Regions from separate parts of the Homo sapiens genome. Here region 2 is linked to region 1. Evidence: fine-mapped QTL for protein levels in blood plasma. A gene starts in region 1. The other region holds a variant in brackets. All regions are shown on one strand. Distances are between the middles of the regions.

Region 1 (4,472 bases):
AAACGAAAGAATCTCTCGTCCAGATAGCCATTATCTGATAACTGTCTTGTCTGCATTTTCACTCTCTTTCAGAGTTGGTTTGCTCTCTTCAGGAGTGGGAATTAACTTTTACTCATGGTGACAAGGTAAACAAGTTTTCCGTGGGTACTCTAAAGCGTTGCATTTCTGTTTTGTTTATGTGCCTTGTTTGGCTACAGTAGTTACTGTGCCTCTGTCTCCTAGGCAACACTGACACATGATTTGATAGGAAGTAAGGCCTGAGGAGTACCCTCTCCCCACTCACTAGGCAATAGCAGCAATTCTCTGCCCTTAGAGAACCGCCTTAGCTCTTCTCTGCTTTGTGAGCAGGTCTGGTACCCTCAAGTAAATATGTGTGGGGGATGCGTTTCTGGGTGTGATAAATTGCTGCTGTCTGTCACCTGAGATCATCCTACACAAATTGTAACAATGGCAGTGTTGGTCTGTGGGTGCACCCAAGACCACCTTCCTCACGTCACATCCATTTTACCACCCAGCTGTCTTCAGAATGCTTCAATTTCAGCAAACCTCCTTGGCTTTTCCTGTCCTTTGTTCCATTTCTGTTTGATTCCTTCTGGGGAATTTCGAGGTGGCTAGCTAGCAAAGCTGGCTTTAAAAAAGTAGCTTAGCGTGTGAATAGATAAGAGTAGTGCTTATTGTATGACCCACGGCAGAGAGTAGTAAGTAGTTGCCTTTGGAAGGAGACCTTCAGTCTAGCCTAAGCGATGAGTGATGCAGGATTCCCTGTCTCCTTAGGAGCTGACTGGGAGAGTCTCAGACAGAGCAGATGCAGAAAGATGGTGGCCCAGGTTGGATCAGTGGTTCTGTTTGTGAGATGAGAGACAGGCTTCCTGGAGGCAATTTCCAAAAGGCTCAGTGTAGAAGCTGTGCAAGTACAGTCAGCGTGTGTGCCTGGGGTTCCCAAGGTGACCATTTTAGCAGTTGCCAAAATGAAACCGGAGCAATTGTTATCAGGTTGAAAATTGTTGTCAGACCTGAAAAATGTGATTTTCCTCGGGGAAAGGGGAAGTAAAACAAGGAACAGAGAGAGATCCATTTATTTGCTAAGAGGCACCCAGAAAAGTTTAGATATAGTATCAACTATCTGGCCTACTCTTTTAAGTCCTGCCCATCTGTTTATACATGTAACATATTTGTCACTAATGAAACCTTAAAAATACTTATTAATCATTGGGAAGACAGTAATTTCTGGCTTAAAAGCCTGCTTTAATGGCCTCTCTCCGTATATATATATGTATATTTTTTGAGATGAAGTCTCACTCTGTCGCCCAGGCTGGAGTGCAGTGGCGCAATCTCTGCTCACTGCAACCTCTGCCTCCCAGGTTCAAGCGATTCTCTTGCCTCAGCCTCCCGAGTAGTTGGGATTACAGGCACCCGCCACCACGCCTGGCTAATTTTTTGTATTTTTGGTAGAGATGGGGTTTCACCATGTTGGCCAGGCTTGTCTCAAATTCCTGACCTCAAGTGATGCACCCGCCTTGGCCTCTTAAAGTTCTGGGATTACAGGTGTGAGCCACCACACTCAGCCAATGGTCTGTATATTTCTTACATTCATTTACTCAAATATTCATTGAATGCACCTATGCACTATGCTAGGCGCGGTGAAGGGTATAAAGAAAATTAGATCTGGCTGCTCCTTCCATACCACCTTCCTGGGTATATGATCTTTAATTAACTACGCCAATAAAAACAAACAAACAAACAAAGCAAACACATGCTCATACAGAAACACTGTCTCTATGTTTCTGTATAAGCACAAACGAAAAAATGAGAGGCAGGGACTTTTTTTTTTTCTGGCGGGGGGTTGCGGGGGGGTTGTTTGTTTGTTTTGAGATGGAATTTCAGTCTTGTTGCCTAGGCTGGAGTGCAATGGCGCGATCTCAGCTCACCACAACCTCCACCTCCCGGGTTCAACCGATTCTCCTGCCTCAGCCTCCTGAGTAGCTGGGATTACAGGCCCCCGCCACCACACCCAGCTAATTTTTTTGTATTTTTAGTAGAGATGGGGTTTCACCACGCTGGTCAGTCTGGTCTTGAACTCCTGACAGGTGATCCACCCACCTCGGCCTCCCAAAGTGCTGGGATTACAGACGTGAGCCACTGAGCGAGGCCTGTTTGGTTTTTTATGGCAATAATTTAATTCTTTATAATAAAGTGTAAACGTCCAAAGACAGTATGATAGAACATGCTGGAAGAATTCACAAAAGTCGTTTTTTTAAAAAGTGAAATTAAATGTGTCTGCATCCTTTAAGCAAAACAATGTGAGTTTAGCCAAATAGAAATATGAATAGTAATAAAACGAAAATCATGGTTCAGTGGCTCTACCATGAACTTTGGTTAAAGGAGCTTATTAAAGGTATCAACTTCTAGAACTTGATTCCATGGAAATAATGGAAAAATGTAGATCAAGATTTATACAAAAGAGAGCAAAATTCATTGTACCTTTACAATAGTAAAATAGTAAAAGTACTATAGGAATGGTGAAGAGAAATATGTAACTGCTCAAGGTTGAAATATGTGATGTGGATGTCAAAAGGAATGTTTATCAATAACTTTTTTTTTTCTTTTGAGACAGGGTGGTGCCCTGTCACCCAGGCTGGAGTGCAGTGGCAGGATCTCGGCTCACTGCAGTCTCTGCCTCCTGGGTTCAAGTGATTCTCGTGCCTTAGCCCCCGGAGTAGCTGGGATTGCAGGCATGTGCCACCATGCCAGATAATTTTTGTATTTTTAGTAGGGAGAGGGTTTCACCATGTTGGCCAGGGTGGTCTCAAACTCCTGGCTTGTGATCCTCCCACCTTGGCCTCCCAAAGTGCTGGGATTACAGGTATGAGCCAATCAAGAACTTTTAATAACATAGGGTATTATGAAAAAATGTTAAGTAAAAACAACAGGAGGGTATACACACATGTAATTTTTTTTTACAGTCTTATTTTTGGTCAGAAGATCAGACTAACAGGAATAGTTATCTCTAAGTGGTAGGTGTATTAGTCAGCTATTGCTACAGAACAAGCAACCACAGAACCCTCAGTGGTAAACTGTGATAGGCATGTATTTGTAGCCCATGTGTCTGAGTTTTGACTGGGGTCTGCTTAATCTTGGGCTGGGATCCAGATCACAAAGTGAGTTCAGATTTGTTCCAAGTATCTGCCATTCATTTGGAACCAGTGGCTACCCAGGGCATAATCTTTTTATGGTGACAGCAAAAGTGCAAGAGAGCAGGACCAACTGCACAAGCACGCATCAAGCATCTGCTCATGTCACATTCCCTGACATCTCAAGAGGCTGAGCAAATTGCATGGCCAAGCCCGGAGTCAAATGGACGAAGCCCAAAGTACATTCCACCATGATAAGGCCATGATAAGGATGTGGACATGGACAACTCCTAGTGGGGAGTGAAGAAATGGGACCAACAGTTCATTCTACCACGGCAGGGTTAGTGTTTCTCTTACTTTTATTCTGTGTTTCTATATTTACAAACGTTTTATTCTGTACAAATGCAGGCAGAAAAAGTTATTTTAAAAAATATTAGAGACATACAGATCAATTTAATAGAATTGAGAGTCAAAAATAAACTCTCGCATTTAGGGTCAATTGATTTTTGACAAGAGTGTCAAGACAATTCAGCGGGGAAAAGATCAGCCTTTCAATAAGTGGTGCATATCCACATGCAAAAGAATGCCTCGCAGCATAGACAAAAATGAATTCCAATGGGATCAAAGACCTAAAAGTAAGAGGCAAAACTATAAAATTCTTAGAAGAAAACATAGGCATAAATCTTCATGACCTTCATTTTGTTTCTTTCTTTTTTTTTTTTTTTTTTTTTGAGACAGAATCTTACTCTGTCGCCTAGGCTGGAGTGCAGTGGTATGATCTCAGCTCACTGCCAACTCCCCTGCCTCCTGGATTCATGCGATTCTCCTGCCTCAGCCTCCCGAGAAGTTGGGATTACAGGCGTGTGCCACCACACCCGGCTAAGTTTTATATTTTTACTAGAGATGGGGTTTTGCCATGTTGGCCAGGCTGGTCTCGAACTCCTGATCTCAGGTGATCCACCCACCTTGGCCTCCCAAAGAGCTGGGATTACAGGCATGAGCCGCCGCACCTACCCAATGGTTTCTTCAATAAGATACAAAAGCAGACACAACAAAAGAAAAAAATAGATAAACTGGATTTCACCAAAATTAAAAGCTTTTGTGCTTCAAAGGATACCATGAAGAAAGTGAAAAAAGACCGGATGCAGTGGCTCACGTCTCTAATCCCAGCACTTTGGGAAGCCAAGGTAGGCAGATCACCTGAGGTCAGGAGTTTAAGACCAGCCTGACCAGCATGGTGAAACCCTGTCTCTACTAAAAAACACAAAAATTAGCCAGGTGTGGTGGCAGGTGCCTGTAATCCCAGCTACTCAAAGGCTGAGACAGGAGAATGGCTTGAAC
Region 2 (4,000 bases), 16 kb before region 1:
GCCTCAGCCCCTGCCCCCGAGTAGCTGGGATTATAGTCACGCGCCATCACGTTGGCTGATTTTTGTATTTTTAGTAGAGATGGGGTTTCACCATGTTGGCCAGGCTGGTCTTGAACTCCTGGTCTCAGGTGATCCACCCACATTGGCCTCCCAAAGTGCTAGGATTACAGGCGTGAGTCACCCCACCCGTCTATCATTTTAGATTTTAACCAGCACTAGTACCAATGAGTCTGTATCTAATCCTTTGTATTAGTTTCAACCAAAAGTATGTTCTTTCAAAACAAAAGGCCAGTAAGATTTGGTTTATATCTATTTGGTTATATCTATAATACCTGGGTAGATTAAGTTAACTTTGACCTTGTTAGTACCAAGCTGTAACTTGGTTGCAGTCACTGAAGATAATTTTTTAAATGTTTCTAAAACAAATGTCTGTTATCAAATATTGGAATAATCTGAGTAATTACCTGCAAATATCCATTCCTTGTATTGTGTATTTTTACTTCATAATCAAAGCAATGGATTGGAAAAGCAGACACTGGTTTCTCCCATTGGATAGAGAGACGAGTTCCTTCAATCTCTGCTGTGACATTCAGTGGAGGATTTATTTGATCTAAGTTAGGGAACGAAAGATCAGTGATTTTTTTTTTAGAATCAGTGATCAAAGCTGATAATTCCAATCCACCCACACTTCTCAAGGCATTTCTAAGATACGCTTTTTTCAAATATTTACCATCAGGTCTTAATCAACTGATCTCCAAGCCACAGGAAGCCGGTGGCCTCCCATAATACTCTTGTCTTATAGTGCTGAAGAAGAAGAGACCCTTTCTGGAAACTACAAGGATTACTACTCCAAATAGAGTTGAATGCTTGAATTACTTCCCCCCCTCAGCTCATTGCAAGACTCACCCACCATCCCCCTTTACTACTCAAGTTGTACCAGGCCCAGAATAAACCTGACCACTGAGAGAACATTTCCCTGGACCTTCCACCAAGCCTTGCCTCTTCCCAGTAGGTATGTGGCCCTGAACAAATCACTTCCCCTTTCTGAGATTCAGTTTTTAATTTTAATTTCATTTTGTTTACTGCGTCTTTTGGTTTTTGTTTGTTTGGGGGCTGGAGCAGGAAGCTTCAGTTTTCTTTTGCATCAAAAAGAATGGATTGGGGCAGGGCGTGGGGGCTCACGCCTGTAATCCCAGCACTTTGGGAGGCCGAGGCGGGTGGATCACGAGGTCAGGAGATCGAAACCATCCTGGCTAACGTGGTGAAACCCCCTCTCTACTAAAAATACAAAAAATTAGCTGAGCGTGGTGGTGGGCGCCTGTAGTCCCAGCTACTCAGGAGGCTGAGGCAGGAGAATGGCGTGAACCCAGCAGGCGGAGCTTGCAGTGAGCCGAGATCGCGCCACTGCACTCCAACCTGGGTGACAGAGCAAGAAATCTGTCTCAAAAAAAAAAAAAGAAGAAGAAGAAGAAGAAGAGTGGATTGGGCTAAATTTGTCTTTACTTAGGACTCTAATGTCCTTTCCCTTGAGATCTCACTTGATTGTCTTATGGTCCGGTGAGGTGAGGGGAAATGAATTCTTAATGAGTGTCCTTGTCTTAGGTAATATGACTTAGATCTCACAATTAATAGGGAAAAGCTAGGAGTGGGATCCACTGGCTTCAGAGCCTCCTATACCCTATGAAGAAAATTCTTAACCAAGAAAGTACTTATTTATTTTAGTAATCCTAGGAATCAGCCTCAATAAAATGAAAATCATAAAAGAAAAATGAATTCCTGTGGTCTGTACTAGATCATATCCATTTTCATATTAATATCATTGTTTCCTAGGTCTTCCTCGGCATCTTTTATTGCCTATTTTCATGAAAGTGACATTTTTAGTTCACCTAAGAAATATATTACTGGAGAGAATTGCATAACCTCTTTAGTAAGGGCTATGATTCTTTACACAAAGTTATATTCCATTGGATATAGATATGTCACAGCCAAATCATACCTTCTAAATAATATTGTAGTGTATTTATTAAACCTTTATGCCAGGCACTGTTCTAAGTGCTTTATCATTAGTAACACAATTCTCACGAAGACTGCACAGGAAGTATTGATTCCTCTCCATTGTTTCAGATAAGAAGATTAGGCACAAAGGAATGATCAGCTTGTCCAAGGTCACTCAGCCAGTGGTGGAGCCAGGATCCAAATCCAGGCAGTCTGGCCCCACAGCCCATAATAACCACCCACCATTGAAATCTGGAATCTCCATAACTAAGAATGCCATGTGAGAGCGCCTGATGAGTTTCACTAATAGAACTATCTGGGATGAGG[G/A]AGAGTGTCTTCTCTATTGAGAACTGAGCAGACAAAACCACGAATAGAATTTTTAGAGCTGAGAATTGCACACTGAGAGATATTCGAGCTGCAGAACATCCAGGAGATGGGCCAGAACAGTGAGAAATTCAGAGAGAGAGAGATGTTAGCCTGGGAGAAGAAGGGCTTCTGGATGGGAAACGTGCTGCCTGTGAACAGCTAAGAGAGGCTATTCTATAGGGAAGGGACTCAAATCACCTGGGGTGGCACTAGTCCATCACAGGACCCAGGGGCAGAAATTTCACAAAACCTGTCAGAACTCATGAAGGATTAAATGGTCTCTTTTAAGCAGCTAAATTCACTTTTTCTGGTGCAGTGATTCTCAACTGGGGGAAATTTTACCCCTTGAGGGGCATTTGGCAAAGTCTGAGACTTTTTTAAAAGTCACAGCTCAAGGACAGAGGGGCATACTACTGGCATCTAGTGTGTAGAGGCCAGAGATGCCGCTAAATATCCTACAGTGCCCAGCACAGCCCTCCATAACACAGAGTTGTCCAGCAAAACTCACTGGTGGTGTTGGAATGGAGAACCTTGCCCCAGTGGTTTTCAAACATGGGTCTGATGCTTACTTGGCATCAGAGAAGCAGTAAAACTAGGTGATCTTTATAACCCTTCCTTCCAGTGCTGAGATTCCGAGATTCAGTTATTTCAGCTTTGGGTTAAGTCGGTCTTACCAATGGCGTGAAGGGCAAACAGCTGATCAAAGGGCCTGATAGCAGAGTGCTTGCTGGAGCCGTTAACAAGCACCGCAAGCCAGTCACGCCCTTTGCTGAGGATAAAAGTCCTGGGAAACCAGCATGCGATATTTCTCCCCAGTGTGTCTTTGCTGTATTCTTGGCATTCTTCAGTCCAAGAGCCATACCTAAATTGGAACATTTACGAGTGTTATGAGGTTGCAGGAAACAACCATTTGCCTAAGTAAAAATAGGTACAGTACTAACCTATAGTAGAGAAAATACTGCGTGTCCTCAGGGGCATCTGTGCCAACAAGCCAGGTGCAGTGAAGGGAAACTTGGTATGACCTTAAACGTGAATAATTGTCTTCTGTAGTGTTTGTGGTGCAAGTTAAATTCACAATTGAGGTTCCAGGAGACCCTAGGTAGTCAAAAGTAAAAAGGACAAAACATTGCCATGGCAAACTCTGAATTTCATGCTTCTTTTGGAACTATAGTGATGTGAACGTCGTATTCATCACCAAAAAATAATCATCTTCACATTTTTTTTTCCCTTGAGACAGAGCCTCACTCTGTCACCCAGGCTGCAGTGCAGTGTTGCGATCTTGGCTCACTGCAACCTCTGCCTCCTGGCTTGGAGCGATTCTCGTGCCTCAGCCTCCCAAGTAGCTGAGATGACAGGTGTGTACCACCACACCTGGCTAATTTTTGTATTTTCAGTAGAGCTGGCGTTTCACCATGATGGCCAGGCTGGTCTTGAACTCCTGACCTCAAGTGATCCACCCACAGCCTCCTAAAGTGCTGGAATTACAGGCATGAGCCACCATGCCCGGCCATGATCACATATTTCTAGAAACCTACTAACTACAAAAGGCCAACTTACTGGAGATATGGAATTAGAATTATAAAGTCCCCATTTCTGATATTCGAGAGCTTCCCAGCTATTTTGTTTGGGGCCTGGGGGT

What was found. PIP is the posterior inclusion probability: the model's chance that the variant is causal. Protein levels are from the aptamer-based SomaScan assay of Sun 2018.
Region 2: its variant is fine-mapped to the plasma level of the IL5RA protein (Sun 2018, PIP 0.95).

The regions. Positions count from the first base shown.
Region 1 is chr3:3,110,199-3,114,670 of GRCh38, forward strand. It overlaps IL5RA (interleukin 5 receptor subunit alpha), which reads right to left and starts at 176. Exons shown (of 12, transcript NM_175726.4): 1 at 1-176.
Region 2 is chr3:3,094,835-3,098,834 of GRCh38, forward strand. IL5RA (interleukin 5 receptor subunit alpha) reads right to left here. Exons shown (of 12, transcript NM_175726.4): 6 at 3,303-3,456; 7 at 3,036-3,223; 8 at 465-610. Among named protein-coding and RNA genes, the nearest start is that of IL5RA, 14 kb to the right of the region's middle. The variant G/A (reference allele first, on the strand shown) is at 2,323.